Homo sapiens: one gene and its partners. The protein of the gene in region 1 interacts with the protein of each later gene in a pairwise test. Each region holds a gene or a part of one and is shown on either strand. Other genes may lie near its edges.

Region 1 (4,104 bases):
AATTCTCTCCATGACCCGCCTCCTCCTCTGCCATCCTTCAACCTCTCCCTCCTAACCTGTAACCCCACCTGCCTCTGGGCCTACTTTGTTCCTTCTGTCTGGAACACTCCTTTCCCCCATTTTGCTTGGCCAGCTTCTCATTTTTTGGGATTCAGTTTATGTGTCTCTTCCTCCAGGAACCCCTCTCTAACCATCCCTCCCAGCCACCCAGACTGGAGCCCTGCTCTGGTTCTCACGGCACCCCTCACCCTGATGGTGGCGGGCATCCTGCTCTATGACAATCCCTTAATTATTGTCCTGGTTGCTGTGAGCCCCTGGAGGGTAGAGACACCGTTAGGCTCACCGTTGGGTCTCTCATAGCAAGACCCGCACCAATGCATTACACGTTCAATAAGAGCATGCACAAGCATTCTTTTGTGAGCAGCTCACCCTTTCCCGCCTCTGCCAGCCCTTCCTCCCTGTCTCCACGTATCCAGATTGCACCCTTTGTGGAAACCAGGCTCACGGCTGACTCCCTTCACAGCGTCTTCTCTGCTAACCTGAGAGGGAACCCATCCCCTTTCTCGCTGAAGGCGCAAGATGCTGGATCCGTGGTGTGTTCATGCAATTTCTCATTTCATTTTTTATATTATAATATTTAGATGTATGTAAGTTCCTTGAATATAGAACTTCTAGCTATACCATCCCTGTATTCCTGGCAGTTAGCCTAGAAAGCTTTGAATAGACAAATGGAAGTGTAATAAGAGAGGCCATTACCCGATACTTGTTATTTGTTTCCTGCTGCTGCTATGACAAATTACCAGAAACTCGGTGGCTTAAAATACAAATGGGGCCAGGCGCAGTGGCCACGCCTATAATCCTAGCACTATGGGAGACCAAAGTGGAGGATCACTTGAGCCCTTGAGTTTGAGACCAGCCTAGGCAATGCAGGAAGACACCATCTCTACAAAAAATAGAAAAGTTAGCCAGGCATGGTGGTGCACACCTGTAGTCTCAGCTACAGGAGGCTGAGGTGGGAGGATCCCTTGAGTCTGGGAAGTTGAGGCTGCAGTGAGCCGTGATTGTGCCAGTGCACTCCAGCCTGGGTGACAGAGCGAGACCCCATCTCAAAAAAGCAAAGCAAAGCAAAGCAAACAAAGCAAAACAAAACACAAATGTATCCTCTAACAGTTCTGGAGGCCAGAAATCCTAAATCTGTTTCCCTGGGCTGAAGACAGGGAGTTGGCAGGACCCATTCCTTCTGGAGGCTCCAGGGGAGAAGCCATTTCCTTGCCCTTTACAGCCTCTAGAGGGTGCCTGCAATCCTTGGCTCGTAGTGGCCGTCCTGAATTCCTCTGGCCTCTGCTTCCATAGTCACATCTCCTGACTCTGAGCCTCCTGCCTCCCTCCTATAAGGACCCTTGTGATTATATAGGGCCCACTTGGATAATTCAGGATCATCTCCCCATCTCAAGACCCTTAATTTGGTAACATTCATCAAGTCCAGGGATTAGGTACCCCCCAATCTACGGGAGTAATCATTTAGCCTATCACAATAGCATTTATTATGTCACAAAGAATTGATAAGAAAGCCAAGCTTCTTGGTTCAATGCTGTTTTAATTCCGCCAGAAAAGTTGGAAGATTTCTTTCCTATGGGATGAAGATATTGGAGCAAGACTTTTAGGGGTGCATTGTTTATAAAGTTCCCAGACCTTGGTCCTGAAGAGCCGGCCCACAAAGACATAAATTACTGGATTCAGGGAGCTGTTAGTGAAGGCAAAGAAGTTGGCCAATTGCAGGCCCAGGTCAATGAAGTCCTCCCAAAAGCAGCCTCGGACTGCTTGCACCTGGAATAAGAATTCCAGGAAGGCAAAGAAGTGGTAAGGGGCCCAGCAGACCAGGAAGGCAACCACGAGCGTGAGGATCAGCGCTGTGGTCTTGCTATCCTTGCGGCCCCCGCACCTTGTCCTGCTGACCTCCTCCCGCGTTCGCAGGGAGGCCAGGATGTGGTAGTTGAAGAAGACGATCGCAGCCAGTGGTAGGAGGAAACCCAGAATATTTAACTCCACAATCCTTGCAAAGTGCCAGGCCTCATGGGGGAGGAGCAGGATGCAGGCGGTGATGTTCAGATCTGGGACGGCTTGGATGGATCGCAGCAGGAATGTGGGGATGCTCAAGAGGCCCCCCACAACCCAGATGAGCACGCAGGTGACCCGGGCCTGCCTCCGCCGCTGCTGCCTCCGGCTGGCCATAGGGTGCACCAGCACGCGGTAGCGGTCCTGGCTGATGGCCACCACCAGGAAGATGCTGATGAACAAATTGGCCTTGATGACCCCGTTGATGACACGGCAGAGGAGGGCTCCGAAAGGCCAGTTAAACTGGTTCCAGATATTCTCTGCCCAGAAGGGCAAGCCCAAGACAAACACCAGATCAGAGGCTGCCAGGTTGGCCAGGTAGATTTCTGCCACGTTCAGTTGCCGCCGGGGCAGGAGGAAGACCAACAGGACAAAAAGGTTCCCTAGGAGGCCGAAGAAACAGATGGAGATGATAAATGTTGGCAGCACTCTGTGCAGCAGGTCCCAGGCTTCTGGAGCATTGTCACAGGCCGTAGCATTTTGAGGGAAGAGCTGGCTCTGGTTGGAGGATTGGAGCTCTAGAGGGGGCCAGGATGATGCCATGCACAGTGACCTGAAATGAACAGAAGGTAGAATAAAACAGGAAGTGGCAGACTACAGCCTATGAGCCAAACCAACCTGTCACCTGTTTTTGGACAATAAAGTTTTATTGGCACAGAGCCACACCCATTCCTGGACGTATTATCTACAGCTGTGTTCATGCTACAAGGGGGAGTCGAGCGCTTGTAACAGAGACTGTCTGGCTTGCAAAGCTGAAGATATTTACCATCTGTTCCTGAGGGGGAAAAGTTTGCTGACCTCTGGTTTAAGGGATGGTGCCTGAGTCCAAATCCCGGTACAATCACTCAGTGTGAGCTACTTAGAACCATTGACTTTTACTTTCCTTTTTAAACATTGGAGAGAATCGTGTCTCTCTTGTGGGATCACGGGAGGGCTGTTGTCAGGATCTACAGGGTGCTTAGCTCCGTGCCTTGCATAGAGGAAAGACTTTGGAAGGTAGTGATTAGTCTTAGTAACAACTGTACCATTATTATTATTACTATTAGGGTTTTAACAGGCATTTAATGAGCCTCTACCTCTTGCCAGCCCCTTGCCAGGCACTGGAGATATGCAGGACAGAGCAGCCCCAGCCTCATGGGGCTGCAGACATGGAGGCAGAGGTCATGGCTTGAGATAGAGCTGAGGGAAGCCCGGGAACAGCAAAGGAAGCTGACCTGTTGGGGCTGGGACCAGTGTGGTGGCCGGGGTGGGGACAGTGCTAGGAGGTTCCTCTTACAGGCTTGAAAAACATGAGTATTGGCCGGGTGTGGTGGTTCACACCTGTAATCTCAGTACTTTGGGAGGCCAAGGCAGATGGATCAGATGAACCCAGGAGTTCAAGACCAGCCTGGGCAACATGGTGAAATCCTGTCTTTACAAAAAATACAAAAATTAGCTGGGCATGGTGGTGCATACCTGTGGTCCCAGCAACTCGAGAGGCTGAGGTGGGAGAATCGTTTAAGCCTGGAAGGTCGAGGCTGCAGCGAGCTATGATTGTGCCACTGCACTTCAGTCTGGGCCGACGGACTGAGACCCTGTCTCAACAACAACAACAACAACAAAAAAAAAAAAAAAAAAAAGGAGAGAGAGAGAGAGAAAAGAAAAAAGAGAAAGGAAAGCATGAGTAATAAATAAGGATAACAACTAACATCTGTTAGATGGTATTAATGGTCTGTGTTCCAGGCGCCATTCTAAGTGTTTCACATTTAAGTATTTTCTCATTTAATCTTCCTGGCAGCCATTCAAGGTAGGGGCCATTGTCATCTCCAGTTGGCCAATTAGAAAATTGAGTGCTGAGACCCGGAGTCGCCTGTCTGAGGTCACACAGCTGGTCAGTAGGGCCTGGATTCAAACCCAGGCAGTCTGATTCAAGAGCCTGATTGAGATCCTGTGCTTCTGTCTGCTCTCTTCTGCTGCACCTGTCCCCACGCGATGAATGACAAAGCCAGG
Region 2 (3,262 bases), on another chromosome or scaffold:
GCCATCGCTATAGAGTCAGCTGTTGAGCATTTGTGTCACAGGAGAGGATTCATGGCTTTTGTTTGGGAATGTTTTTAATACACACTAAACATAGTCTCGTATTTTCATGCAAATGTTAAAATCAAAGTTCTTGGCGAGAAAGGAAAGCCAATCTAGAGTAAAAACTTAGGCCGGGCGCAGTGGCTCACACCTGTAATCCCAACACTGGGAGGCCGAGGCAGGTGGATCATCTAAGGTCAGGAGTTCAAGACCAGCTTAACCAACATGGTGAAACCCCATCTCTACAAAAATACAAAAATTAGCCGGGCATGATGATGTGCGCACCTGTAATGCCAGCCACTCAGGAAGGTGAGGCAGGAGAATCGCTTGAACCTGGGAGGTGGAGGTTGCAGTGAGCCAAGATCGTGCCATTCCACTCCAGCCTAGGCGACAGAGCGAGACTCCATCTCAAAATAATAATAAACAGTTAGTTACCAGCCATAAAAATAATCTGTTTTCTGCTATGTTGAATATTGCTCTTTTTCAAGAGCTTAAGGGGTATGTCTCTCCTGTCTTCTCTCTGTCCCTAAAAATGAGCTACGTTGTCTTAAAAGATGAAAGGGCCAAGGCCTGGAGCAGTGGCTCACGTCTATAATCCCAGCACTTTGGGAGGCCAAGGTGGGCGGATCACTTGAGGCCAGGAGTTGGAGACCAGCCTGGCCAACATGACAAAACCTCATCTCTACTAAAAATATAAAAATTAGCCTGGTGTGGTGGCACATGCCTGTAATCCCAGCTATTCCAGAGGCTGAGGCAGGAGAATTGCTTGAACCCAGGAAGCAGAGGTTGCAGTGAGCCGAGATTGTGCCACTCCAGCGTGGGTGACAGAGCAAGAGTCTGTCTCGAAAAGATGAAAGGTCCTAGTAAAAACTGCTTAGAAGGCCAGCTGCAGTGGTTCGTACTTGTAATCCCAACACTTTGGGAGGCTGAGATGGGTGGATTACTTGAGCCCAGGAGATTGAGACCAACCTGGGCATCATAGTGTAACCCTGTCTCTACTAAAAATAAAAAAATTAGGCCAGGTGTGGTGGCTCACGCCTGTAATCCCAACACTTGGAGAGGCCGAGGCGGGCGGTTCATGAAATCAGGAGAGCGGGAACATCCTGGCTAACGTGAAAACCAGTCTCTACTAAAAATACAAAAAAAAAAAAATTAGCCGGGCGTGGTGGCGGGTGCCTGTAGTCCCAGCTACGTGGGAGGCTGGGGCAGGAGAATGGCATGAACCCAGGAGGCGGAGCTTGCAGTGAGCCAAGATCGCGCCACTGCACTCCAGCCTGGGCAACAGAGCAAGACTCCATCTCGAAAAAAAATTAGCTGGGAGTGGTGGCGACCACCTACCTGTAGTCCCAGCTACTCAGGAGCTGAGGTGCGTGTACCACTTGTGCCTGGGAGGCAGAGGTTGCAGTGAGCCAAGATCATGCCACTGCCCTCTAACCTGGGCAACAGAGTGAGACACTGTCTCAAAAAAAAAAAAAAAAAAAACTGCTTAGAGCACTGATGAAAATGAACATGTAGAAAGGCTGGAAAAGGGCATTTGGTCTAGAAGTCAGCAGAAGCCTGTTCAAAATTCACTTTCTTTGAAAGATAAATACTAGATGATTCCAGTTATATGAGATACCTAGGTAGTCAAACTCAGAGACAGAAAGTAGAATGATGGTTGCAGGGGCTGGAGAGTGGGGGAAATAGGGAGTTGTTCACTGGGTATAGTTTCAGTTTTGCAAGATGAAAATGTGGAGGTTGGTTGCACAACACTGTGAATATACTTAACACTACTGAACCATACATTTAAAAATTCTTAAGATGGTAAATTTTATGTTACATGTATTTTACCACAATCTTTTTAAAAATTATTTCTGAAGGCCAGGCATGGTGGCTCACGGCTGTAATCCCAGCACTTTGGGAGGCTGAGGCGGGTGGATCACCTGAGGTCAGGAGTTCAAGACCAGCCTGGCCAACATGGTGAAACCCTGTCTCTACTAAAAATAGAAAAATTGGCTGGGCATTGTGGTATGCACCTGCAATCCCCAGCTACTCGGGAGGCCGAGACAGGTCGCTTCAACCTAGGAGGCAGAGGTTGCAGTGAGCCAAGATTGTGCCACTGCACTCCAGCCTGAGCAACAGAGAAAAAGACTCCATCTCAAAAACAAAAAATTATGTTTGATTTGTAGTTTCTAGGAATGTTCATTGGGTTTAGTGAAGAGTATAGGCTTTGAAATCTGACAAACTTAGGTTTGAATCCCAGGTCTGTCACTTAACTAGTTTTGTGACCTCATACAAGCTAATTATTGGACCCTTAGTTTCCTAATCTGCAAAACAAGGTGATACCTATATTGGGGATACCTGTCTCTGAAAAAAAAGCTTGAGCCAGAGGCAAGAACTCTGGGAAATTGGTTTCTCTGCTGCTAGTTGTTTTTGGTATGAGTAGGTGTGTGTCAGGGTACCCAAACAGGGCCTTTATTCTGTCACCCAGGCTGGAGTGCTGCTACTTTTTTAGGGTGTGTGTGAGAGAGAGAGACAGGGTCTCAGTCTGTCGCCCAGACTGGAGTGCAGTGGCACATTCATGGCTCACTGCAGCCTCGAATTCTGGGTTCAAGCGATCCTCCTGCCTCAGCCTCCTGAGGAACCAGGACTACAGGTGCTTGCCACCATACCTGGCTAATTTTTTGCAGAGATAGGGTCTCACTTTGTTTCCCAGACTGGTCTCAAACTCCCCTGGGCTCAAGCGATCTCTGGCCTCTGCCTCCTGAAGTGCTGGGATTACAGGTATAAGTGACCATGCCCAGCCTCTCTGCTACTTTTTTTTTTTTTGAGATGGAGTCTTGCTCTGTCACCCAGGCTGAAGTGCAGTGGCGCAATCTTGGCTTGCAACCTCTGCCTCCTGGGTTCAAGTGATTCTCTTGCCTCAGCCTCCCGAGTAGCTGGGATTACAGGCACCCGCCACCACTCCCAGCTAATTTTTGTATTTTTAGTAGAGACAGGGTTTCACCATGTTGGCCAGGCTGGTCTCGAACTCCTGACCTCAAACAATCCACCTGCCTGGGCCTCCCAAAGTGCTGGGATTACAGGCGTGAGCCACCGCGCTCAGCCTCTTGTATTTCTAAGCTACTAGATGGGGTTTTAGTAACTAGTTTACAAAATAGGACAGATAGGACACAAATAACTATTTGTGACTATTGCTGCATTTATGGCCTGGGATAAGCCCTGATTTCTTTGATTAGTCCTC
Region 3 (4,577 bases), on another chromosome or scaffold:
TGCAGGCTGGGCATGGTGGCTCACGCCTGTAATCTCAGCACTTTGGGAGGCCAAGGTGGGCGGATCACCTGAGGTCAGGAGTTCGAGACCAGCCTGGTCAACATGGCAAAACCCCACCTCTACTAAAAAAAAAATACAAAAATTAGCCAGGCATGGTAGTGGGCGCCTGTATTCCTAGCACTCTGGGAGGCCGATGAGGGTGGATCCTCTGAGGCTAAATGTTTGAGACCAGCCTGGAAAAGATGGTGAAACCCCATCTCTACTAAAAATACAAAAAATTAGCCAGGCTTGGTAGCGGGTGCCTGTAATCCCAGCTACTCAGGAGACTGAGGCAGGAGAATGGCTTGAACCCAGGGAGGCGGAGGTTGCAGTGAGCCGAGATCACAACACTGCACTCCAGCCTAGGTGATAGAGTGAGACTCTGTCTCAAAAAAAAAAAAAAAAAAAAGTAAAGTTGGCCTGGTACAGTGAGTCACATCTATAATGCCAGCACTTTGGGAGGCCAAGGCTGGAGGATCACTTGAGTCTAGGAGTTTGAGACAAGCCTGGGCAACATGGTGAAACCCCATCTCTACATAAGATACAAAAAGAAAAATTAGGTGGGCATGGTGGTGCATGCCTATAGTGCCAGCTACTCAAGAGGTTGAGATGGGAGGATCACGGGAGCCTGGGAGGTCAACGCTGCAGCAAGCCATAATCACACCACTGCACTCCAGCCTGGGTGACAGAGACCCTGTCCCAAAAATAAATAAAGTTATTCCAACCTCATAGCCATTATAAGCTTCTTAATACCCTGCCACCAATATTCACTCATATGGTCACAAAGGACATTTAACCGTAAACTAGTCCCAAAATGATGCTTGAGAAAGGGATTCTATGGTCAAACAAATTTGGGAGCTAGTATACAGCAGTGTTCCACTTTCTTTCCACTTTCTTTTGATTTTTCTTTTTTTTTAGATGAGATCTCACTCTATTGCCCAGGCTGGAGTGCAGTGGCGTGATCTTGGCTCACTGCAGCCTCCACCTCCCAGGTTCAAGCAATTCTCCTGCCTCAGCCTCCCGAGTGGCTAGGGTCACAGGCGTGTGCCACCTCTCCCAGCTAATTATTTTGTTTGTTTTTGAGCAGAGTCCCACTTTCAACACACTAGCAAAGGCAAAAAGCTATCCTTTGTTGATAACTGAGAAAACTACATTTTACCAAATACGACTATTAGTAACTGGACTATAATTTAGGTAGGCACATCAACCACCACCATCACTGCCACCAATCATAACCCCGGCCCTCAAAACTTTATCAGGCCAGGCACAGTGGCTCACACCCATAATCCCAGCACTTTGGGAGGCCAAGATGGGTGGATCACCTGAGGTCAGGAGTTCAAGACCAGCCTGACCAACACAGTGAAACCCCATCTCTACTAAAAATACAAAATTAGCCAGGTATGTTGGTACATGCCTATAATCCCAGCTAGCTGGGAGGCTGAGACCCTGGAGGCAGAGGTTGCAGTGAGCCGAGATCGCATCACTGCACTCCAGCCTGGGTGACGAGAGCAAGACTCCACCTCAAAAAAAAGAAAAAAGAAATTTCCTATGAGTAACTCAGCTGCAAGCTAAAAATCCTGAAATTAATGTCTGTGTATCTCTACACATCCCTTACTTAACCAGCTTCCCTAATGAAAAGAATTAATGAAAAGGAGCAGTAAGAGGTCCACGTACCAGTTGCCGTATGTATTCCTGAATGGAGTTTGGATAAATAAGCACAGTGATTGCAACCAACATGTTCAGGGCAAAGTCAAAGATCTGGTAACAGAAGAATGGGATGATCCAGGCTGCGCGTTGCTAAACAGAACAGAAAATAGAAAGTTAATGTGTTCAATATTATAAAACAATATTTTTCTTAAATTCAAAGTATTTTATTAATCTGAAAGGAAATGGAAAAATTGGAATTCATTAACCCAGGTCATGGTGGAAACCAGTATGCCAAATATAAGCAGTCAACAAATAAGCTTCAGTGAACATTTCCAGGACTGGCTGTGTGTGGTGTCTCACACCTGTAATCCCAGCATTTTGGGAGGCTGAGGTGGGTGGATCACTTAAGGTCAGGAGTTCGAGACTAGCCTGCCCAACATGGTGAAATCACGTCTCTACTAAAAAATACAAAAATCAGCAAGGTGTGGTGGCACACACCTGTAGTCCCAGCTACTCTGGAGGCTGAGGTGGGAGAATCACTTGAACTTGGGAGGCGGAGATTGCAGTGAGCTAAGATCACACCACTCTACTCCAGCCTGTGTGACAGAGTGAGACCCCGTCTTCCCAAAAAAAAAAAAATTTCCAGTATAATATTGGTTTTCCTAGTACCACATAATACAAACGAGAGATTTAAACAGAGATTCTTAACAGAAAACTGGAAAGTCACTTCTCACTATAGACAGCAGCACAGATTACACATGTAAGAGACCAAGGAAAAGGCCAGCATCTTACTGCAAGCGGCTTACCTTGTACGCTCCGTAAGTAGCCATAGCACATATCAGGATCATGAGAAGAGAAATCGCAATGGCAATGCACATGTCTGCCGAAAGATTAAAAAGAATTTCTTTAAAAAAGACAATCAGTAGTGGATCCACTGAATACTTTCAGTCTCTTCTCAAAGGCATTTTGTAAATAAACTAGCATAAAGTTAGTAAATACTTTATACTAAGAGATTATTTCAAAATAGAAAAAGGGATATTGGTTTACAGATTTTTTTAATGTTTGTTCTTCTGGTCCACTGGATTATATAAATAATGAATTAGGTATTACTTTATAGATATATAGGTGTCTAACTTCTATTTTGTAAACTCATGTGTGCCTCAAAGCTCTAATGAAAGCCTTCATAGCTTCCGATCTTATTTAAAATAAAAACTCCGGCCAGGTGCGGTGGCTCACACCTATAATCCCAACACTTTGGGAGGCCGAGGAGGGCGATCACGAGGTCAGGAGATTGAGACCATCCTGGTTAACACAGTGAAACCCCATGTGTACTAAAAATACAAAAAATTAGCCGGGCGTGGTGGTGGGCACCTGCTGACCCAGCTACTTGGGAGGCTGAGGCAGAAGAATGGCATGAACCTGGGAGACAGAGCTTGCAGTGAGCCGAGATCGCGCCACTGCACTCCGGTCTGGGCGATAGAGCGAGACTCCATCTCAAAAAAATAAATAAATAAAAATAAAACCTTCATTTCTTATCAAGGCCTTGATGTTCCTCTTTATTCCAGAGCAGTCTACCTCTCTAATCTCGCCTCACCTTGTCCCACTCTCTTGCTTGCTCTAAGACAGCCATATCATCTGGTTCATTCTATTTTATTTATTTTTTCTTTTTTCTTTTTATTTTTTTGAGACAGAGTCTCACTCTGTCGCCCAGGCTGGAATGCAGTGGGACAACATTGGCTCAATGCAAATTCCGCATCCCAGGCTCAAGCAAGTCTCCCAGGCTCAAGCAAGTCTCCCACCTCACCCCCTAGGTACCTGAGACTACAGGTGTGCTCCACCATGCCAATTTTTATATTTTTAGTAGAGACGGGGGTTTCACCATGTTGGCCAGGCTGGTCTCGAACTCCTGACTTCAAATGATCTGCCAGCCTCGGCCTCCCAAAGTTCTGGGATTACAGGCGTGAGCCACCATGCCTGGCCTTCAACTTCTTTTTTCCTTTAGTCAATCTCTGGTAAATAAGGAGTCTTGTTTGGTCTCCCAATCTGGAGTTGCAGTGGTGTGATCATGGCTCATTGCAGCTTCAATTGCCTGGGCATTGTCACTATGGGATTATAGGCATAAGTCACCGCACCCGGACAAAAATATCTTAAACCAACTTGGCAGGTACACAACTGCTTGTAGCACCATTATTTGCTACGGGTAATAAATATTTTATAAATATTCTTTTATACCTACTCAATATTTAATAAGAAATAATTTTATAAAAATGAACCCCAAACTATTGGTTTTTTTAAACTGCTTTTCCTAGATCTGGCAGAACAAATTATTGTCAATGAGAAAAATAATATTGGTTTTCATTGTACATGCAACTTCTCTAAAAGCTTTGCATTTTTTCGACAGAGATCTAGAGGGGAAAACATAATCTGCATACTAAATCTCTACTAAATTGCAAATCACATCCTGATTTCAAAAACATTAAAATGTAAACAACAACAATAAAATGCATTGGAGAAGCAGCCGGTGAGCACGTTAAGAGCATGAAAGGAGGAATACTGGACACCAGAGCTGATCTAACTCCTTCTTAGCCAGTGGCAAACAGGACCTCAACAGATCCAGGGGATTCTGTAGGCTTAATGCATCTGGAGTGTCAACTTGACTGGACTGAAGGATGCAAAGTATTGTTCCTGGGTGTGCCTGTGAGGGCGTTGCCAAAGGAGATTAACATTTCAGTCAGTGGACTGGGAGACGAAGACCCACCCTCAATCTGTATGGGTACCATCTAACCAGCTGCCAGCCTGGCTAGAATAAAGCAGGTAGGAGAAGATGAAGAGCAGACTTGCTGAGTCTTCCGGCTTCCATCTTTCTCCCGTGCTGGATGCTTCTTGCCCTC
Region 4 (4,577 bases), on another chromosome or scaffold:
AGAAAAAAGATAATCTTTGTCATAATCCACAGTCAGATTTTCTTCCAAAATCTTCCTTGCTCTCAGAATCGGTGGTTTTGAAGACTCAATCACTATGGGGCTTTTCAGGAACACCCTATGTGTAGAAAGGAAAAAAAAAAGGAAAGAGAAAATTAGCACTAAATGTATAAATATTTTAATTACCAATTAAGTAGGTCCTAACATGGGAAAGATTGACACTTTCTTTGACTGAAGCAACAAGATTGAGAGGTGGGACATGTGCAGAGAACTGGAGACCGAGGCCAGCTCTCCCAGCTCCCCTGCACCGTCTTCATGGCTCTGGCCCCGTGAGCCACAGCTCTCACCTGCAAAATTAGGATAATTCTCTGCCTCAGGTGAAATTACGCTGCTGAGGCCCTTATATAAAGCCTGTTATATAAGTGTAAGATATTGGTGAAAGTTTAACTAAATTAATATCTATATAAAGGAAACACCCAATTTTATCAAAGCATGGTGATGCTTAGGGTATGATAGGTTCCTGAAAGTTCTAACTGCAATTTAAGGGATTGAACCTTTATCTGAAGGGAGGTTTCTGCCACAAACCTTTATTAGTATCTGATGCCTGTGTTATAACCCACCTTACCAGCAGTTTGTTGAAACAGACATTGGAAATAGGTCATGCTTTGTAATACTGAAGCTCTGTGTGCCCTCAATTCACACAGAGCTTCACAGTTGGGAAATCCTTTCTACATGTTCTTCCTCATCTGACCCTCACAGAGCTTCTGAGAGGTAGACACTACAGTTACTACTATGACCAGGCACCTCAGGGTAAATTCTTAATGGAGAACAGTATTTCACTGATGAAGAAGCAAAGCCAGAGAGATTAAATGACCTTCCTGAGGCCACGGAGCTTCTGCTAAAGGGCAAAAGAGAAACCTCCATACAGAATTTTTTTCCCTCAGAATCGTGACTTCCCACGTTACTTAATTGCCCTCCACTCACTTTAAGAGGAAGGAGCTGAGCTCCTCACCTTCAGCAATGACGGAGATTACTCATCCAGAAAACAGCAAGAGCCTCTCATCTGAACAGACAGGTAAGAAAGTCATGAGTCTGGGTTGAGTCACCCAGGTATGCCAGTTACTACCCTGGGGACACACACAATAAGACCTTCTAGGAAACATACATGCTTTTAGGAATTGATCATGTGAAAGCACTGCCAATTTTTAGATATGAACACTGGGAGGGTTCTATACAAACTGCGGTGAGAAAACAAAAGAGCAAACTCTTGGCAGCAACCTGGAAAGAAAACTGGTCATCACATTTGACTCCCTGTTCACTAATGTGCTGATAAATAAATGGGAAGTGGACTTTTAGAATCCCTGGTCGACAGAGGCCACAGTGAGGCCTGGCAAAGACGCCAGAGACGAACGACAGCCAGCCCGGGCGGACCTGACACGTGGCACAGGGACTTCCAGCAGTGTTGCCTAATGGTGGCACATTGTAAATGGCAACCCAGACACCAACACAGGCTGCTGTAAACCTGCTTCCAGGGTGAAGGCAGGTGCGAGCTATGTGTTGAAAGGGCAGTGTGGTATGCTAATGAGAAGCACGGTGCCACGTCGACCTCTGCCACCCACTTGGCCAAGTTGTTTAATCTTCCTAAGCTGCAATTTCCCCTTTTAAAAATGGGCTAATAATAGTTTCTACTTCAAAGACTTGTGTTATGAGGACTAAACTGGCTAACAATGGAAACGCTCAGCACAATGCCTCCTGTGCAGCAGTAAGAGCCCAACAAATGTAAACCCTCAATAACAATAATAGTATTATTATCATTAGCAGCTGAATTGGGTCAATCAAAAACAGGAACGGCAAATCAAATCCCAAGCTGACACTGAGGTGGGCGGGACTCTGCCTCCAGGTGGCCCAGTGGGGCCGGGCAGTGGCAGCAGGACAGGCTTGATTGCTGTTGGCAGTTTGCAGCTTACTCTTGAGAAAGGACTTGAAGCTACAAACAGCAACAACTACAAGTTCTATAAATGATGGTTACAGACTCATTTTCTTTTAAACATACAGGCTGGGCCGGGCGCGGTGGCTCATGCCTGTAATCCCAGCACTTTGGGAGGCAGAGGCAGGTGGATCACCTGAGGTCAGGAGTTCGAGACCAGCCTGGCCAACGTGGCGAAACCCCGTCTCTACTAAAAACAGAAAAATTAGCCAGGTGCGGTGGTGGGCGCCTGTGATCCCAGCTACTTGGGAGGCTGAGGCAGGATAATCATTTGAACCTGGGAGACGGTTCAAATGCAGTGAGCCAAGATTGTGCCACTGCACTTTAGTCTGGGTGACAAAGCAAGACTCCGTCTCAAAAAAAGTAAAAATAAAAACAAACAAAAAGCAAACAAAAAAACCGTAACAGGCTGATAACAAATGTTTCTGCTGTATTTTCGGACACAAAGGACAACGGCATGTGTGGGGGGAAATACCACATAGAAAAAGCTAGGAGACCATATAACTTGAAGCAAAGCCAACTTGTAACTTTTGAGCATGGTTATTCTTGCAAGTAACTATGTTTCTTCTTAAGGGAGGGAAGCATAAGTTAGAACAAAGGCATCTGAAGAGAACTGAGACAGCTAAGAAGGAGAGGGTGTGGAGTGCACTGGGCAAAACCATCAGCACCAAACACAGACCTCAAATTACCCTGGATCTGGGCGGGTCTGGTCCCGGTGCTGAACTGAGCCTCGGAATCTCTTCACCTTCAGACTGTCAACAACTTCACTCTCGTCATCTCCCTTCACAAAGCCTTACTTGGTGTAGGTTTCAACCTTAAACCAATAGCTCTTAGACACTATCCCTGGAACATTCAGCCACTTCCATTTTGTGAGTCAACAGTATGACAAGAGTGGAATGTGGGGAAGGCTGCCCTGGGAGAAAACACGCACCACGAATGCAACCTGGGGCACAGCCTGAGGAACGGATGCAGCAGGAGGGAGGGGACTGCACTGTGAAGCCCCTGGGCCATTTCCGGGGTTTGATGGATAGAAATGAGTTTGCAAATTTTGAAGTGAAAAAAAGAGTAACAGTTGGGATCCAGAGGTAAGGATTTAAGTATTTATGAATAAAAACAGTGGTAGGCGGGTTAGGCTTAGAACCTCAGAGGTCAGTTTCATGTGATAGCCCAGCAGGGAAGGGGATTAAGGTGGTGATCTCTCTTCTCCAGTTTTTTTTTTTTTTTTTGAGACAGAGTCTTGCTCTGTCACCCAGGCTGGAATGCAGTGGCACAATCTCGGCTCATTGCAAGCTCTGCCTCCCGGGTTCACGCCATTCTCCTGCCTCAGCATCCCAAGCAGCTGGGACTACAGGTGCCCACCACCACGCCTGGCTATTTTTTTTTTTTTTTTGTATTTTTAGTACAGACGGGGTTTCACTGTGTTAGCCAGGATGGTCTCGATCTCCTGACCTCGTGATCCGCCCGCCTCAGCCTCCCAAAGTGCTGGGATTAAAGGCGTGAGCCACCGCGCCCAGCCTCTCTCCTCCAGTTTTAAGATACGAGAACATCCAAACATTTTCCCCCAAGCTTAAAGAATAAAAAGGATGAAGAGAAAGCTGAAGTAAGGAGAATTATAATTACACCAACTATCCTATTTTGAGTTATCTTTAACATTTTTTTCTGTAAGCAAAGGAGCACAGCAGGGATTACTTAATGAAACTATCTTCAAAACGAAAATGTTTCCTCCAACCATTTCTAGATGTTTAGAACTTATGAATGTTGTGAAATTTCTACCTCCACCAAAATAATGCTTATTTCTTAAAACCGATTTAAAAAGCCTTGACATATAACAGCACCAACCTATCAAACAGAAATAACCAACTCTTTAAATGTTATTCAAGTTGTAGTTATAATGTGTAATTAGTCAATCTGGTTGAGGACAATTTTATTCTAAAAACCTTCTTAGGAATTCTCTCCCAAAGAGTACCGAAACAAAAATCTCAAAGCAAGAAAGCAATGATGGAGTTGCCAGCTCTCCTTTGAAGACTATTAACGGGGATGATGGCGAATGCATGAAAACAACATACTATTTCCATGTGGGACCATCCGACCAGATTTTTAATATTAAAAAAAGCAAGGCCAGGCTCACGCCTATAATCCCAGTGCTTTGGGAGGCCAAGGTGGGAGGATGGCTTGAGCCCACGAGTTCGAGCCCGGCCTGGACAAGGCAGGGAGATAACATCTCCACAAAAAGCAAAAAAGTTAGCCGGGTATGGTGGCATGTGCCTGTAATCCCAGCTACTCGGGACGCTGAAGCGGGAGGATTGCTTGAGTCCGGGAGCTCAAGGTTACAGTGAGCTATGATGGCACCACTGCACTCCAGAGCTCTGTCTCAAAAAAAAAAAAAAAAAAAAAAGGCAAGCAAAGTCCTTTCTTCTCCATCATGAGAAATTTGGCAGCAGAGAGTCAGTAACCAGTGGAAGACTGCAAATTCTACCTGTAATTACTTCTGGTTTTGTGAAACAGCCAAGTGGTCTTCAAATTCAACTCCTCACAGAAGGGTATCAGCTGGCAAAAATAAATGTACTGTTTTAAAAATAGCATGAGGTACTAA
Region 5 (4,373 bases), on another chromosome or scaffold:
CGTGATGGTGCACACCTTACGGTTACAGCTGCTCAGGAGGCTCGGGTGGAAGGATCGCAATACCTCATCTCAAAAATAGATAGACGCCATCTTGTAGGTAGGTAGGTAGACAGGTGAGAATGGAGAGAGGGGTGGTTGGGGGCAGCCTGGAGGGAGTTGAGGGGCCGTCTGGGGGTGTCCTCTCCTCACACATCACATCCCTCTACAGCCAGGACAACATGTGGCGCTGTCCCCGCCAAGTGTCCACCGTGGTGTGTGTGCACGAACCCCGCTGCCAGCCGCCTGACTGCCACGGCCACGGGACCTGCGTGGACGGGCACTGCCAATGCACCGGGCACTTCTGGCGGGGTCCCGGCTGTGATGAGCTGGACTGTGGCCCCTCTAACTGCAGCCAGCACGGACTGTGCACGGAGAGTGAGTGGGGGTTCTGGGGAGGGGGCTCTGCCCAGCCCTGCCTTGCCCTAGGCCCTCACCTGGCCTCCCCGGTCTTGTCTCGGCAGCCGGCTGCCGCTGTGATGCCGGATGGACCGGGTCCAACTGCAGTGAAGGTAGGAGCTGCCACGCCACTAGCGGATGGGGAGACGGTGGCCCCCGGCAGCCCCCACTGCTCCTCTGCTGCTTCTGTCTCCACCTTCTGGTCTGGGAAATGCTTGCCTCTTGTCTTCTGCCCCGGCCTCACCTGCACATCACTGTGTGACTCCCCTGTGGCTGCTGCGGCCCGTTCCACAAAGGGCTCGGCTAAAACAAGGGTCCCCGGGCTCTGGCTCCAGGGCCCACCTCAAATCCAGCACGGTCTTATCTTGAGATCCTAACTGCAGTGCCTCTGTAGAGATTCTGCTTCCAAATAAGGTCACGTTCAGGGGCTAGTCCAGGGAGGGCAGGGGGTGCTTCACCTTTAGCCCGGCTCTGTACACATGGGCAGGGGCAGGTATCCTGTCCTGTCGAGAAAGGCTCTGACACTGGAGGCCCCAACCTTTCTCCTCCCTCCTCCCTCCTCCCATCTCCTTTCCATAGAGTGTCCCCTTGGCTGGCATGGGCCGGGCTGCCAGAGGCCTTGTAAGTGTGAGCACCATTGTCCCTGTGACCCCAAGACTGGCAACTGCAGCGTCTCCAGAGGTACCTATCCCTCCAAGGGGAGGGGTATGGGCAGACGCTCCTGCTCCGGCCCCTTCAGCCTGTCTCTGGTATGTTACAGTAAAGCAGTGTCTCCAGCCACCTGAAGCCACCCTGAGGGCGGGAGAACTCTCCTTTTTCACCAGGTAGGTGCTTCTGTGGGAGCTGGGGCCAGGGCGGGAGGAATCCCCCTTCTCTCCCGCACCCTTCCCCTGTGAGGTCCATCTCTGCCCTTGTCCCCTGCCAGCTCCCTGCCTTAGAGGAAGCGGGACCAGCTCTCCCCACTGTCTGCTTTGGGGACCCTGGAGCAGAGCCCAGGGCCTTCGAGTGCCCAGCCTCTGTTGTCAGCATCCCCCACTGGAGCTCAGAATGCAAACTGGGCTAGATGAGATCCCAGGGTGGGGGCAGGAGGTTTCCTCATTCTGTCACCCAGGCAGAAGTGCTGTAGTACAGTCAGCTCACTGCGATCCTCCCGCCTCAGCCTCCCAAGTAGCTAGGACGACAGGCACGTGCCCCCATGCCCGGCTAATTTTATTTCTTACTGTTTTTTAGAGATAGGATCTCACTATTTTGCACAGACGAGGTGCACAGTCCTGGGCTCAAGTGATCCTCCCACCTTGGCCTCCCAGCCCCCATGCCCAGCATCCAGCTGTGTTTTATTTGGCTTACATAATTTTTAAAAAGTTAAAATATATCAGCAGCATCTAAAAATCAGTAACATTCACATTTTTTTAAACTTTTTTTTTTGAGACGGGGTCTCACTCTGTTGCCTAGGCTGGAGTGCAGTGGTGCGATCTCAGCTCACCACAACCTCCGCCTCCTGGGTTCAGGCAATTCTCCTGCCTCAGTCTCCTGAGTAGCTGGGATTACAGGTGCCCGGCTAATTTTCATATTTTTAGTAGAGACAGGATTTCGCCATGTTGGCCAGGCTGGTCTTGAACTCCTGACCTCAAGTGATACGCCCGCCTAAGCCTCACAAAGTGCTGGGATTGCAGGCATGAGCACCACGCCCAGCCTTAAAAACCTTTTTAATGGCTTCTCTTAAAATATCAGGCCAGGCGTGGTGGCTCACGCCTGTAATCCTAGCACTTTGGGAGGCCGAGGCAGGTGGATCACTTGAGGTCAGGAGTTCAAGACCAGCCTGGCCAACATGGTGAAACCTGGTCTCTACTGAAAATACGAAAATTAGCCAGGCGTGGTGATTCGAGCCTGTAGTCCCAGCTACTCGGGAGTCCAAGGCAGGGGAATCGTTTGAAGCCAGGAGGCGGAGATTGCAGTGAGCTGAGATCATGCCACTGCACTCCAGCCTGGATGACAGGGCGAGACTCTGTCTCAAAAAAAAAAAAAAAAAATCAGGAGATGGGGCAGCACGGACCTGCATTGTACGTCATGACTGCCTCTGCTGTTCCCTGCACATGTCTTAAATGTTGCCCCATCCCCACCTAGTCCATTTTGCTCATAACATTCCCTGTGTGGTCCCTGGAGGCACCTGATTTAGTGCTATCTATGCCGGGTAGAGGGAAGCCCCTCCAGTGCTACCCAAGCCCTGAGCCCACCCAGCAGTCCCCCACTTGGGGCTTCTCTCCTGTCTGCAGGACCGCCTGGCTAGCCCTCACCCTGGCGCTGGCCTTCCTCCTGCTGATCAGCACTGCAGCAAACCTGTCCTTGCTCCTGTCCAGAGCAGAGAGGAACCGGCGCCTGCATGGGGACTATGCATACCACCCGCTGCAGGAGATGAACGGGGAGCCTCTGGCCGCAGAGAAGGAGCAGCCAGGGGGCGCCCACAACCCCTTCAAGGACTGAAGCCTCAAGCTGCCCGGGGTGGCACGTCGCGAAAGCTTGTTTCCCCACGGTCTGGCTTCTGCAGGGGAAATTTCAAGGCCACTGGCGTGGACCATCTGGGTGTCCTCAGCCCCTGTGGGGCAGCCAAGTTCCTGATAGCACTTGTGCCTCAGCCCCTCACCTGGCCACCTGCCAGGGCACCTGCAACCCTAGCAATACCATGCTCGCTGGAGAGGCTCAGCTGCCTGCTTCTGGCCTGCCTGTGTCTGCTGCCGAGAAGCCCGTGCCCCCGGGAGGGCTGCCGCACTGCCAAAGAGTCTCCCTCCTCCTGGGGAAGGGGCTGCCAACGAACCAGACTCAGTGACCACGTCATGACAGAACAGCACATCCTGGCCAGCACCCCTGGCTGGAGTGGGTTAAAGGGACGAGTCTGCCTTCCTGGCTGTGACACGGGACCCCTTTTCTACAGACCTCATCACTGGATTTGCCAACTAGAATTCGATTTCCTGTCATAGGAAGCTCCTTGGAAGAAGGGATGGGGGGATGAGATCATGTTTACAGACCTGTTTTGTCATCCTGCTGCCAAGAAGTTTTTTAATCACTTGAATAAATTGATATAATAAAAGGAGCCACCAGGTGGTGTGTGGATTCTGAATCATGGACTTAGGTCACTGCTAGGGCTTAGCAGGTGTGGCTTATCCTGAAACAGAAGTCACAACGGCATCCTGGAGCCAAGTCCTGTTCCCTGCTTGTTTAATCCAGTGCTTATCAAACTTTAATATGCCACAGGTCACGAGGAGATCTTGTTAAAATGCAGATTTGGGCCTGGGGTGAGGCCAGCAATTCTGCGTTTCCAACAAGCTCTCTGACGATGCTGATGCTTCAGGTCCCCAGACCACACTTCTTGTCTTTCTTAGAAACAGGGTCTCGCTCTGTTGCCCTGGCTGGAGTGCAATGGCACGATCTCGGCTCACTGCAATTTTGACCTCCTGGGCTCAAGTGATTCTCCCACCTCAGTCTCTCAAGTAGCTGGGACTATAGGCACATGCCACCATGCCCAGCTAATTTTTAAAATTTTTTTTGCAGAGAAGGGGTGTCACTGAGTTGCCCAGGCTGGTCTCAAGCTCCTGGCCTCAAGTCAACCTCCTGCCATGGCCTCCCAAAGTGCTGAGATTACAGGTTCGAGCCACTGCGCCTGGCCCCTGACCATAATTTGAATGACCAGGGCTTAGTTTTTCCTCACAGTATTTTTATAGAATTTAAATTAGTTACCCATGTTTAAAAGTCAAGAGATTTTAAAATAAATAAGGGCGGGGGTGCAGTGGCTCACGCCTGTAATCCCAGCACTTTGGGAGGCTGAGGTGGGCGGATCACCTGAGGTCAGGAGTTCGAGACTAGCCTGGCCAACATGGCAAAACCCCGTCTCTACTAAAAATACAAAACAGGCATGGTGGTGGGAGCCTGTAATCCAGTTACTC
Region 6 (5,318 bases), on another chromosome or scaffold:
GTCTGTGGCTCTCTAATAGCCTCTGTTTATGAGCAAGGCTCTTGTCATGGAGTGAATCACCGGATGCCCCCTGCCACCCCAGTGAGGGCCAGGGCCAGCGGTATGCCCATTTTACAACTGAGGATCTGAGGCCCTAAGAAGTGGGTCACACCAGCTCAGGGTCAAGTAAATTGGCTGAACCTGTGTTCTTAACTCTGGGGTCAAACCACCCTGTCTGCTCCCTTGAGCCATTTTCTTGGAGCCTCGTGAGGGCCCCAGTGTGGGTGCACGGGGTTGTCGCCCCTGCAGGGCAGTCAGTGCCAGGAGCTTACAGGGCTGATCCAACTACTTGGCTTCCTCATGTGCCAGGTCCTTCTTCTCCCAACTGCGTACAGTGGCAACATCTTCCCTATGGGCTGTGGTGACATTAAAAAGTTAATCCATGTACATCCTGGCTACTATGATTAACTTACTCCTAACAACCTTTGACTACCCCTCCCTGAGGAAGCCCTCCTTAACCCTGAAGTCTGGCTCAGGTATCCTTCCCTTCCTGATGCTGGCCTCTCTAGTGCCCATTACCCACCACAGCTCTAACCCAGCACCCACACTGTGCAGTAGTCACCATTCATGCTTCTCAGGGTCGGGGACCACAGACACGGGCCTCTGTGTCCTGTGTGGAGTGTGTAGGTTGGGCGTCTCCTTGCTGTTCTCCAGGCCAGCGTGTCTATGTGCTCGGGAGGCAGCTCCCTGCCTAAGTGCAGTCTCTCCCCTTCCTGGGCCCTGATGGGTGGGGAGCAGCACCTCCCTCCTGCCTCCTCAACTGAGCCTGAAGCTGGGGTCATAGGATCAGCAGGGGCTCCAGGAGCTGTCCTGTGACTGATCACAGCCACAAAGCTCCTTCTACCCCCGAGAGCCTCCCCACAAGCACACAGGTGAACAGGTCCCCCTAGATAGCACAGACACATACAGCTGCCCGAGACTTGGCCTCAACCGAAGGGGCACTGTCAGAGGTTCTTAATCTCAGGGGCACCTTCAGGATGCCCCTCCCCTCAGGTATCCAGGGCTGAGGCCTTGGATGCTCCCTTCCAGAATGAGGGCCCTGTCCTACCAGGACTCCCAGTTGGTTAGGAACACACCTGTCTTCCTGTCTGCCTCCACTCTGCCACCGAGAGGATACCAGCCATTCCAAGTACCCACAAGCCTTGCCAAGTGACCCTGCTAGCACCCCTCCATCCAGGACACTCCCTATGGGACAGGGCTGACTTATGGGGATCCCTCTCAGCCACATGTCCCATGCCAGTTCCAGTCCCATCAGGCAAGTCAGCCCTCCCTCAGGCACTGATGCATGGCCAGCCAGGACTCACGGCATAATGAAAAGGACCAGGTCATGGGGCGAGACAAGTCTGCCCTGGGATAGCCCTTAGGAGGTCATATGTAAAGGTAGGAGCTGGAGTCCCTGGAGCCCAAGCATGAAAGTGTTTGCATGTTGTGACTGTGTGTGTCTGTGGTGGGGGCAGGGCTTACAAGCCTGGAGAGGCTGGTGGGACCACCAGGAGTCTTCCTGGAAGAGGGAAGTCCTGGGTAGCAGTGAGAGAGAGGCACAGGCTCTCTAGGAGCCAGGGGAGGCAGGCTGAAGAGAGGCCCAGGTGTCCCTGTCTGAGCCTATGCTACTGGACACCCTCCCCCCACCCAGCACCCGCCCCCCTTCAAGGATCCTCCCTGCGGCTCCCTGTGGCCAGCAGCTCTGCAGCACTCGGCTCTGCTCCACTCTGCTCAGCTCCGCTCCAGGAAGGCCACCTCCTCCTCCCCCTCCTCCTCCCGCTGTCACCACTCACCGCTCATAACCTCAAGGGGGTGGGGACCCCAGGGCTGGACACACCCCACCGTGGCCCCAGAGCTCAGCCGGTCGCACGGACGGACAGTTGGAAGCCGGACCCCAGAGCCTGAGGTGGGCAGTGTGCCAGGGTCCCTTGCGGCCTCCTCAAGGTCAGTGCCAGCTGGGGATGCAGCTACTCTGGGGCTCTTGAGACTTGTGGGGCACACCCCAGGCCCTCATCCCAAATCACAGGCCCCAAAAGGGGCTTTACCCCCGGGGCATCTGGGGCAGGCAGGACCAGGGGAAAGGGTATGCCCCCGTGTCCACAGGCCAGCCCTGGTCTGGGGGTCTATCAGGAGAGGCCCCAGGCTGGGGGCCAGCTCCTTGCAGAGGCCTCACTGGGGACACCCCGCACCGGCCATGGGGAGCTAAAATTGGAAAGTGGCGAGTGGGAGGCAGCTGACAAAGCTATTTCACGGGCTCTTCACCATGCTCCGGTTTCAAGCTCCTGCTCCATTAACCTGATCCCCAGGGCCTCTCCACCCCCACCCAACTGATGAGGAGGTGCCTCCACCCTCAGGCCGACAGCACAGCCATCAGGCTGGCAGCCTCTGCTGTGGGCAGGGGCAGTGGTGGTCTTCTCTTACCCCAGATTCCAGAGGGGGGTCACTGAGAAACCCAATCCTGAAGGGAGGCAGGCAGAAGTCTGTCCCAGGTCTGCCATGTGACCTTGACAGGTCCCTGCCCCTATCTGGCCCATGACCCCTCCATCTGTACGAGGAGACCGTCGGCTGCTGGGGGGCCCAGGGGAGATGGCTACAGGGCTGGGGATGAAGATTTAGGGGAGGATCAAGGGTGGGCAAAAGGGCCACATCAGCCACCTCTTGGCCCCGTCAGCCCAAGAGTTGCCTGGACATGTTCCCTGCTTCCTCCCTTTAATTTGGGTCCTATGTCTGTATCCATGGAGTCCTTGGGAAGCCCCTGAGCCAGGCTGAAGCGGGATAGGAAGGGTAAAGGTGCTAGCTGAGCCGTAGTACGGCCCAGCAGTTCTCCAGGGGACAAGCTAGGCCCCCGCTGGAGGGAGTGGTGAGACTCAGCCGGGGCCTGATTCTGGTCAGCACCTTGGACAGCAGCCAGTGCCCTCCCTGGCCCCGCCTGGCCCCGCCTGGCCCCACATCCGCTACTCCTGGGCACCTCCTCAAATAGCACAGCCTCCAGCTGGTGCCCAGGGCCTGAATACACAGAGCGCTGAGAGAGTGGGGCAGTGTGGTCACGGACACAGGCAGGGACTGGGATGTGACAGGCTGGAGCTCAGGGACTTGTTGGGGGAATGGGGGTCAGTGACAGGCTGGAGGCTTAATGCGAGGATGGAGGCTTGGCTCTAGGGGCAGCACCTGGGGTGGTCATGGGATCTCAGGGAGGGGAGTGGGAGTCAGAGAAAGGGTCTTAGAGAAGCTGGGGCTTTGTGAGGAGCTAAGGGAGACTCACTGATCGAGGTGGGGACCCTGCAGGCAGAAACCTGACTGTAGTGATAGAGGTGGGGTTTCTCCGCACGCAGGTCATGGGGGCCTTGGCAGGAGCGGTTTTGGCAGAGGGTGGGGCCGGTGCCTCTGGAAGGTATGAAGATGTAAATGAAGGTGAGGGAGGCAGGCTGCGAGTGAGGGCTCTGCGGGCAAGAGCCTTGATGGGTGGGGTGGGGGCAAGAGCAGCAGCTGGGATGGGGCACTGGTGTTCGGTGGCCTGTGAACTGTGGGGGGCACAGGGGCAGGCAGAGTGATGGTACAAGGTCCCCAAGGGGCTGGAGGGGCAATCTCTCTTCAGAGTGGGTCCCCACTGGGGTGGTGGGACCATGAGGTGGGGCTAGGCTTGGCTGGAGACTGTAATTCCCTCACCCAACCTGTCTCCCCAGCCCTGTCCAGGCTATGGGCATCAAGACAGCATTGCCGGCGGCTGAGCTGGGCCTCTACTCTCTGGTGCTGAGTGGGGCCCTGGCCTATGCTGGCCGGGGCCTCCTTGAGGCTTCACAAGGTAATGGCTGTGCCCCGGGGCAGGTGGACAGGACCCTTCTTCCCCTGGAGGCCTCAGGGTTCCAACCAGCAAAGCCAGAAAGTTACAGGCTCCAGACCTAGGGTACTCCTTCTAGAACACGGCTGGATCTCCCTTTTCAGCCCGGGGTTCCCATCTCAGATAGTCACTGGAGGCTGGGTGGAGCCAGGTTCAGTCACAGGAACACAGAGATGCAGAGACACTGACAGAGAGATGGACACAGAGTCACACACATAGACACACACACACACACACACAGAGGCCTGGACCCAGACACACACACACAGAGACCTAGACCCAGACATACACACACACACATCCCGACACACACACACACACACAGAGACCTAGACCCAGACACACACACAAACACACAGACATATACACACACCCCCCAACACACACACACACACATACACACACAGAGACCTGGACCCAGACACACACACACAGAGAGAGACCTGGATGCAGACACACACACAAACACACAGACATATACACACACACCCCAACACACACACACACACACACACACACAGAGTCCTGGACCCAGACACACACACACAGAGACCTAGACCCAGACATACACACACACACATCCCGACACACACACACACACACAGAGACCTGGACCCCGACACACACACAAACACACAGACATATACACACACACCCCAACACACACACACACACACAGAGTCCTGGACCCAGACACACAGCGAGACCCAGAAAGAAGCAGATGCAGCACCAAAGAGACTCAGACCCGTGCCCCGTTCCTGATGCCCTCGCTCCCCAGGGTGGGGCAGCCTTGTCCACGGGGGAAGGTGGGGCAGGGGATGTGAAGGCCCCTCTCCCTGAGGCCACACTCTGTTCTCAGATGGGGCCCACAGGAAGGCCTTCCGGGAGTCTGTGCGACCTGGCTGGGAGTACATTGGCCGGAAGATGGTAGGTCCCCCACATCCCAGGGTCCCTCCCATCCCGAACCCTTCTCTGCTCTCTGCTGTTCCAGATGTTGGCAAGTAACAGAGAGCTTCTCACAGCTCTGGGGCCTCTGGCTTGAGCTTCAGTGCCTTCAGCTTCTTTACTGGCCCCTCCTGTATCCTCCTGGGACATCAAGTTTGCCCGGGCCCTGCTCACTTGGGAAATAGGTCGCATTAGTGGAGTGTGCTTCAGTGGAGCCTCCAGCACCTCCTTCCCAGAAACAAAGCAGTAAAGGGGGAATGGCAGGCAACGTGCGGAGGAGAGGGGGAGCTTCAAGCGACCCGGCAGCCCCCATGGTGCCCTTCACTCCTCTCTACCCTCCTGCCTCGGTACTTCCTTCACAGAGGAGTGTGGAGACCTGCAGGCACTGCTCTTGTGTTTGCATAAAGAGGACACGTTGGGTTTGGCTAGTGGTAAAAAATAATTATTATTATTAAATTTAAAAATGATAATAATAAAAGAAGAACATGAAGGCTGGGAAAGGTGCTGGGGCTCT
Region 7 (4,577 bases), on another chromosome or scaffold:
CACATATTCTAAATGCAAGGTGTGAGACAGTCAGACTTCATAACAATTGTTTAAGGACAACATTCTAAGAGCTAAAACACCACTTACCAGCTGTTAAAGAATGAGGTGTTTTTTTCTGTTATATACCTTTGATAATGTCTCTATGAACATCTTGGCTTATATGGCTTCCCACTCCCAGTTATCCTTAATTGATATGGCAATAGCAGGACCGCTACAGTAGCATTTCTGGGTCAAAGAGCATGAATGGATTCTGATACATACTGCCAAAACAGTTACACAATAACATCAACTGTAATTTGGCTACTTAATTGAAGCTCTCTATTGCCTAAGAAATGTATCTCATAGCACCTTCCTTACCCCACACATACACACTAATTGCTGAAAGAAGCCTACTAACCTGGAAACATCTAACACTGTCAGTTTAATGGACAGATTCTTGTTGTCATCACCCTATCAGTAACACCTCGTAAAGACACATACTTCATTTCCAGCACCTCCTATACTAGCAAGGGACCTACATGTCAGGCACTTCATACATTTAATACCAAGAGAAACTCCACTAGGGAGGGACTATCCTCAGTTTACACGAAAAGAAGCTGAGGCTTGGAAAGGTGAGGTGCCAAATTGAAAGTCACACGGCTAGTAAAACATGCATTCGTGTTTCAAATCTGACTCCTTCTAACCTTTCCCTAGTACCAACACCACTTCACTTCTGGCTGTTTCTACTTGCTCATTAAAGATTCTGTTGCTGCTAGGCTGGGCCTGGGGGCTAACACCTGTAATCCCAGCACTTTGGGAGGCCAAGGCGGGCAGATCACGACGTGAGGAGTTCAAGACCAGCCTGGCCAACATGGTAAAACCCCGTCTCTACTAAAAATACAAAAATTAGCTGGGCATGGTGGCACTCGCCTGTAATCCCAGCAACTGGGAGGCTGAAGCAGGAGAACTGCTTGAACCCAGGAGGCGGAGTTTGCAGTGAGCAAAGATTGCACCACTGCACTCCAGCCTGGGCAACACAGCAAGACTCCATCTCAAAAAAAAACAAAAAACAAAAAACCTGTTGCTGCTATTGGAACAAGTGACAAGCAACAGCTTAGTCAGGGTTGAAATCCTACTGTTCAGCAGCATCTCCAAGAAATCCATTTTGTCTACAAATGGAGTGTGACAATACTCCCTTTTGATGCTGTTCACTATGCAGCCCCAGAGCCCCTAACAGTTCCTGGCATAATAAATATCTGTTGAAAGCATAAACCACCTGTGTTAGGACATGAGCCAAAGAGGTTCACCTTCCCATGGAATGGTACCTGTTCCAACTTAACAGAGTCCATTGATAAAATGATTCACTCAATTTTCATTTAAGTGAAGGCTGTGCTTTTTTAAAGAGACACACAGTCTCACTCTGTTACCCAGGCTAGAGTGCAGTGGCAGGATCATAGCTCACTGCAGTCTCAAACTCCTAGCCTCAAGTGATCCTCCCACCTTAGCCTCTCAAAGTGCTGGGATTATAGGACAGAGGCACCATGCCCAGCCCGGCATGTGCTGTTTAATACAATTTTTGTTAACAAGATGACAAGGCAGTTAAGTTAAACCCAACACGGTATTCTGGAAAAAAAAAAAAGTGCTAAATCAAGGATAGAAAAAAAATAATGAATTTACACAATAAAAAAGAAAATAATTTTGACTAAAGAACCAACCAACCCAGAACTCAATGCCTAGAACAAGACAGACACACACTGAACAGCCTGGTTTCAAATCCTACCCCTATCACAGATCACCTGAAGCTCAGGAGTTTCAGACCAGCCTGGGCAACATGGGGAAACCTCGTCTCTACAAAAACAACAAAAAAAACAAAATTAGCCAGGCATGGTGGTGTGAACCTGTAGTCCCAATTCAGGAGGCTGAGGCAGGAGAATCGCTTGAGCACAGGAGGCAGAGGTTGCAGTAAGCTGAAATAACACCACTGCACTCCCGCCTGGGAGACAGAGTGAGACTGTCTCAAAACAAAAAGAAAAAAAAAAAAAATGAGGCTGGACACAGTGGTTGATGCCTCTGGTCCCAGCTACTTGAGTGGCTGAGACAGAAGCAACACTCAAGCCCAGGAGTTGGAGGCCTGGCGGCTGCAGTGAGCTATCACTGCGCCACTGAACTCCAGCCTGGACAACAGAGCAAGACCCTGCCTCAAAAAAAAAAAAAAAAAAAAAAAGGCAACAAACCCTACAATGGCTGGCTATGCTCACCACCACGACCACAGCAGCAACCCAAACCCAGCCCTAGTCAGTGAAGATTTAAAAACCCTTTAACAAAGGCCAGGTGTGGTGGCTCCCACCTGTAATCCCAGTACTTTGGGAGGCCGAGGCGAGCGGATCATCTGAGGTCAGGAGTTCGAGACCAGCCTGACCAACACGGAGAAACCCGTCTCTACTAAGAATACAAAATTAGCCGGGCATGGTGGCGCATGCCTGTAATCTCAGCTACTCAGGAGGCTGAGGCAGGAGAATCTCTTGAACCCAGGAGGCGGAAGTTGCAGTGAGCCGAGATCTCGCCATTGCACTCCAGCCTGGGCAACAAGAGCGAAACTCTGTCTCAAAAAACAAACAAACAAAAAACTAACAAACACACTTCAATGGTCCCCCGTCACCTTCTGCAGAATACACATTCCTACCAATTCAGGCCCTGTCTACTTCCCCATACTCATTCCCACTCATGCTCTTCTGCATAACCTTCCTCTGGACCTCAGTTTCATCATCCACAAACTAGAAGACAGTGGCTACCTGAGAAACTGTTAATGGAGACAAATTTCCTAGTACATAACAGCAGGCCAGGTCTCTTTTCACTTTTGTAACTGCCATGCATATAGACTACATCTATTCCTTGATATGAAACCAACAAATCAAGTTACTTTAAACACTGCACCCTTTATACAGGTTGAGTATCTCTTATCTGAAATGCTTGGGACCAGAAGTGTTTCAGATTTTAGAATATTTGTATAAACATGATCAGGTATCTTGGGGATGGGACCCAAATCTAAACATGAAATTCATTCACGTTTCCCACACATCTTATTCACATAGACTGAAGGTAATTTTATACAATATTTTAAATAATTTTGTGCATGAAACAAAGTTTTAACTGTGATCCATCACGTGAAGTCAGGTGTGAAATTTTCCACTTGTAACATTAATGTCAACACTAACGGAGTTTCAGAATTTGGAGCATTTGGATTTTTGATTTTGGGATCAGGAGTGCTCAACCTGAATAAGGAAAGACAATGTAGAGAGGTGGTATTATAAACAAGCTAGAGTTCAGTCAAGTTTCAGCACCACAAATTATTTTTGTTTATCAATCCCTATCACCCTTAAAACAGAAAGTTATAAGGAACTATCAAATATACAGGTTTGAGGAAAATAAATATCTGTTTGTTTTAAATGTTATGTTCAGTTTAATACTAGTCTTATAAAACCACAGCCCGAAGACTCATCCAGAAGGTTCTCTCACTTTTAAAAGGCAATCAAGGGATCTATACAACCTGGTGACTATAGTTAACAACAATGTATCACATAATTGAAAAATTGCTGAGAGTAGATGTTAAGTGTTCTTGTCAGAATCAGTATACCACCTAATGTGAATTAACTTGACTTAGCCATTCCACAATGTATAGTACTTCAAAACATCGCATTATACATCATAAATATAATTTTGTGTTAATAAATAATAACTAAAAATAAATAAAAGACAATCAAGTTAAATTATGAAAGGGATACCAGGCAAAAGAATGTTGTAAGTTTTCTAAAGTTCAGGTTCCCTCCCAAGGTCAAAAACTTTAACTGTGTCTACAATTCTAAATCTGAACTGGCAAGCAAATTTTCACCCAGTTAATTGGGTCGAGGAAAAATAAAATAAAATAATTCCCATGATTACACAAATGTTCTTTTATTTATATTAGTCACTGTAACAATCCTATTTATGGATTAATTTCTTTGTACCCCAAACAACTGTTTTCTTATGAAATTTTTAAAGATTTTTGTAACAAAATATAACCTTAAATTCCTAATTTTGAACTGAAAACATCTACTCCATAGCTAGAGTAACTATAAAATTGGGCCATGGCCAGGCACGGTGGCTCACGCCTGTAATCCCAGCACTTTGGGAGACCAAGGCGGGCGGATCACATGAGGTCGGGAGTTCGAGGTCAGCCTGGCCAACGTGGTGAAATTCCATCTCCATTAAAAATACAAAAATCAGCTGGGCATGGTGGCACACGCCTGAGGTCCCAGCTACTCAGGAGGCTGAGGCAGGAGAACTGCTTGAACCTGGGGGGCGGAGGTTGTAGTGAGCCAAGATTGCCCCACTAGACTCCAGTCTGGGCGACAGAGCCAGACCCTGTCTCAAAAAAAAAAAAAAGAAAAAGAAAGGAAAAAAAAATTGGGCCACGTTTGAGAGACAAAGCTAGAGAGTGTAGTCGTACTCCCCAAAACTTTTATATATTTACTCTGTCTTAATAAACTCAAAGGTCCTCAATGTCTTTATGGGAGATAACTGAAGGATTAAAATTAATTCAAATGTAATTAATGTTTTCA

The links.
Region 2: the proteins of BDKRB1 (region 1) and LTAP1 interact in a two-hybrid assay, tested with the Homo sapiens proteins (one large-scale study listed by BioGRID and IntAct).
Region 3: the proteins of BDKRB1 (region 1) and LAPTM4B interact in a two-hybrid assay, tested with the Homo sapiens proteins (one large-scale study listed by BioGRID and IntAct).
Region 4: the proteins of BDKRB1 (region 1) and INSIG1 interact in a two-hybrid assay, tested with the Homo sapiens proteins (one large-scale study listed by BioGRID and IntAct).
Region 5: the proteins of BDKRB1 (region 1) and NAGPA interact in a two-hybrid assay, tested with the Homo sapiens proteins (one large-scale study listed by BioGRID and IntAct).
Region 6: the proteins of BDKRB1 (region 1) and HHATL interact in a two-hybrid assay, tested with the Homo sapiens proteins (one large-scale study listed by BioGRID and IntAct).
Region 7: the proteins of BDKRB1 (region 1) and NAP1L4 interact in a two-hybrid assay, tested with the Homo sapiens proteins (one large-scale study listed by BioGRID and IntAct).

What each region holds. Positions count from the first base shown.
Region 1 is NC_000014.9:96,262,237-96,266,340, reverse strand, and holds the end of BDKRB1 (B1 bradykinin receptor), read right to left. Parts: exon of another isoform or gene 3,730-4,104; intron 3,690-3,729; 5' UTR 3,571-3,689; intron 2,669-3,570; 5' UTR 2,659-2,668; coding exon 1,597-2,658; 3' UTR 1,578-1,596; downstream 1-1,577. UniProt on the Homo sapiens protein: This is a receptor for bradykinin. Could be a factor in chronic pain and inflammation.
Region 2 is NC_000001.11:154,207,683-154,210,944, reverse strand, and holds part of LTAP1 (protein C1orf43), read left to right. Parts: intron 1-3,262. UniProt on the Homo sapiens protein: General regulator of phagocytosis. Required to uptake Gram negative bacterium by macrophages.
Region 3 is NC_000008.11:97,813,317-97,817,893, reverse strand, and holds part of LAPTM4B (lysosomal-associated transmembrane protein 4B), read right to left. Parts: intron 2,567-4,577; coding exon 2,493-2,566; intron 1,837-2,492; coding exon 1,714-1,836; intron 1-1,713. UniProt on the Homo sapiens protein: Required for optimal lysosomal function. Blocks EGF-stimulated EGFR intraluminal sorting and degradation.
Region 4 is NC_000007.14:155,303,779-155,308,355, reverse strand, and holds part of INSIG1 (insulin-induced gene 1 protein), read right to left. Parts: intron 4,532-4,577; coding exon of another isoform or gene 4,461-4,531; intron 116-4,460; coding exon 86-115; coding exon of another isoform or gene 1-85. UniProt on the Homo sapiens protein: Oxysterol-binding protein that mediates feedback control of cholesterol synthesis by controlling both endoplasmic reticulum to Golgi transport of SCAP and degradation of HMGCR.
Region 5 is NC_000016.10:5,024,021-5,028,393, reverse strand, and holds the end of NAGPA (N-acetylglucosamine-1-phosphodiester alpha-N-acetylglucosaminidase precursor), read left to right. Parts: intron 1-208; coding exon 209-414; intron 415-500; coding exon 501-548; intron 549-1,014; coding exon 1,015-1,116; intron 1,117-1,195; coding exon 1,196-1,259; intron 1,260-2,708; coding exon 2,709-2,916; 3' UTR 2,917-3,550; downstream 3,551-4,373. UniProt on the Homo sapiens protein: Catalyzes the second step in the formation of the mannose 6-phosphate targeting signal on lysosomal enzyme oligosaccharides by removing GlcNAc residues from GlcNAc-alpha-P-mannose moieties, which are formed in the first step.
Region 6 is NC_000003.12:42,699,226-42,704,543, reverse strand, and holds the start of HHATL (protein-cysteine N-palmitoyltransferase HHAT-like protein), read left to right. Parts: upstream 1-1,745; 5' UTR 1,746-1,965; exon of another isoform or gene 1,966-2,003; intron 2,004-3,022; exon of another isoform or gene 3,023-3,077; intron 3,078-3,353; exon of another isoform or gene 3,354-3,356; coding exon of another isoform or gene 3,357-3,412; exon of another isoform or gene 3,413-3,432; intron 3,433-3,704; coding exon of another isoform or gene 3,705-3,717; coding exon 3,718-3,823; intron 3,824-4,718; coding exon 4,719-4,786; intron 4,787-5,318.
Region 7 is NC_000011.10:2,981,987-2,986,563, forward strand, and holds part of NAP1L4 (nucleosome assembly protein 1-like 4), read right to left. Parts: intron 1-4,577. UniProt on the Homo sapiens protein: Acts as a histone chaperone in nucleosome assembly.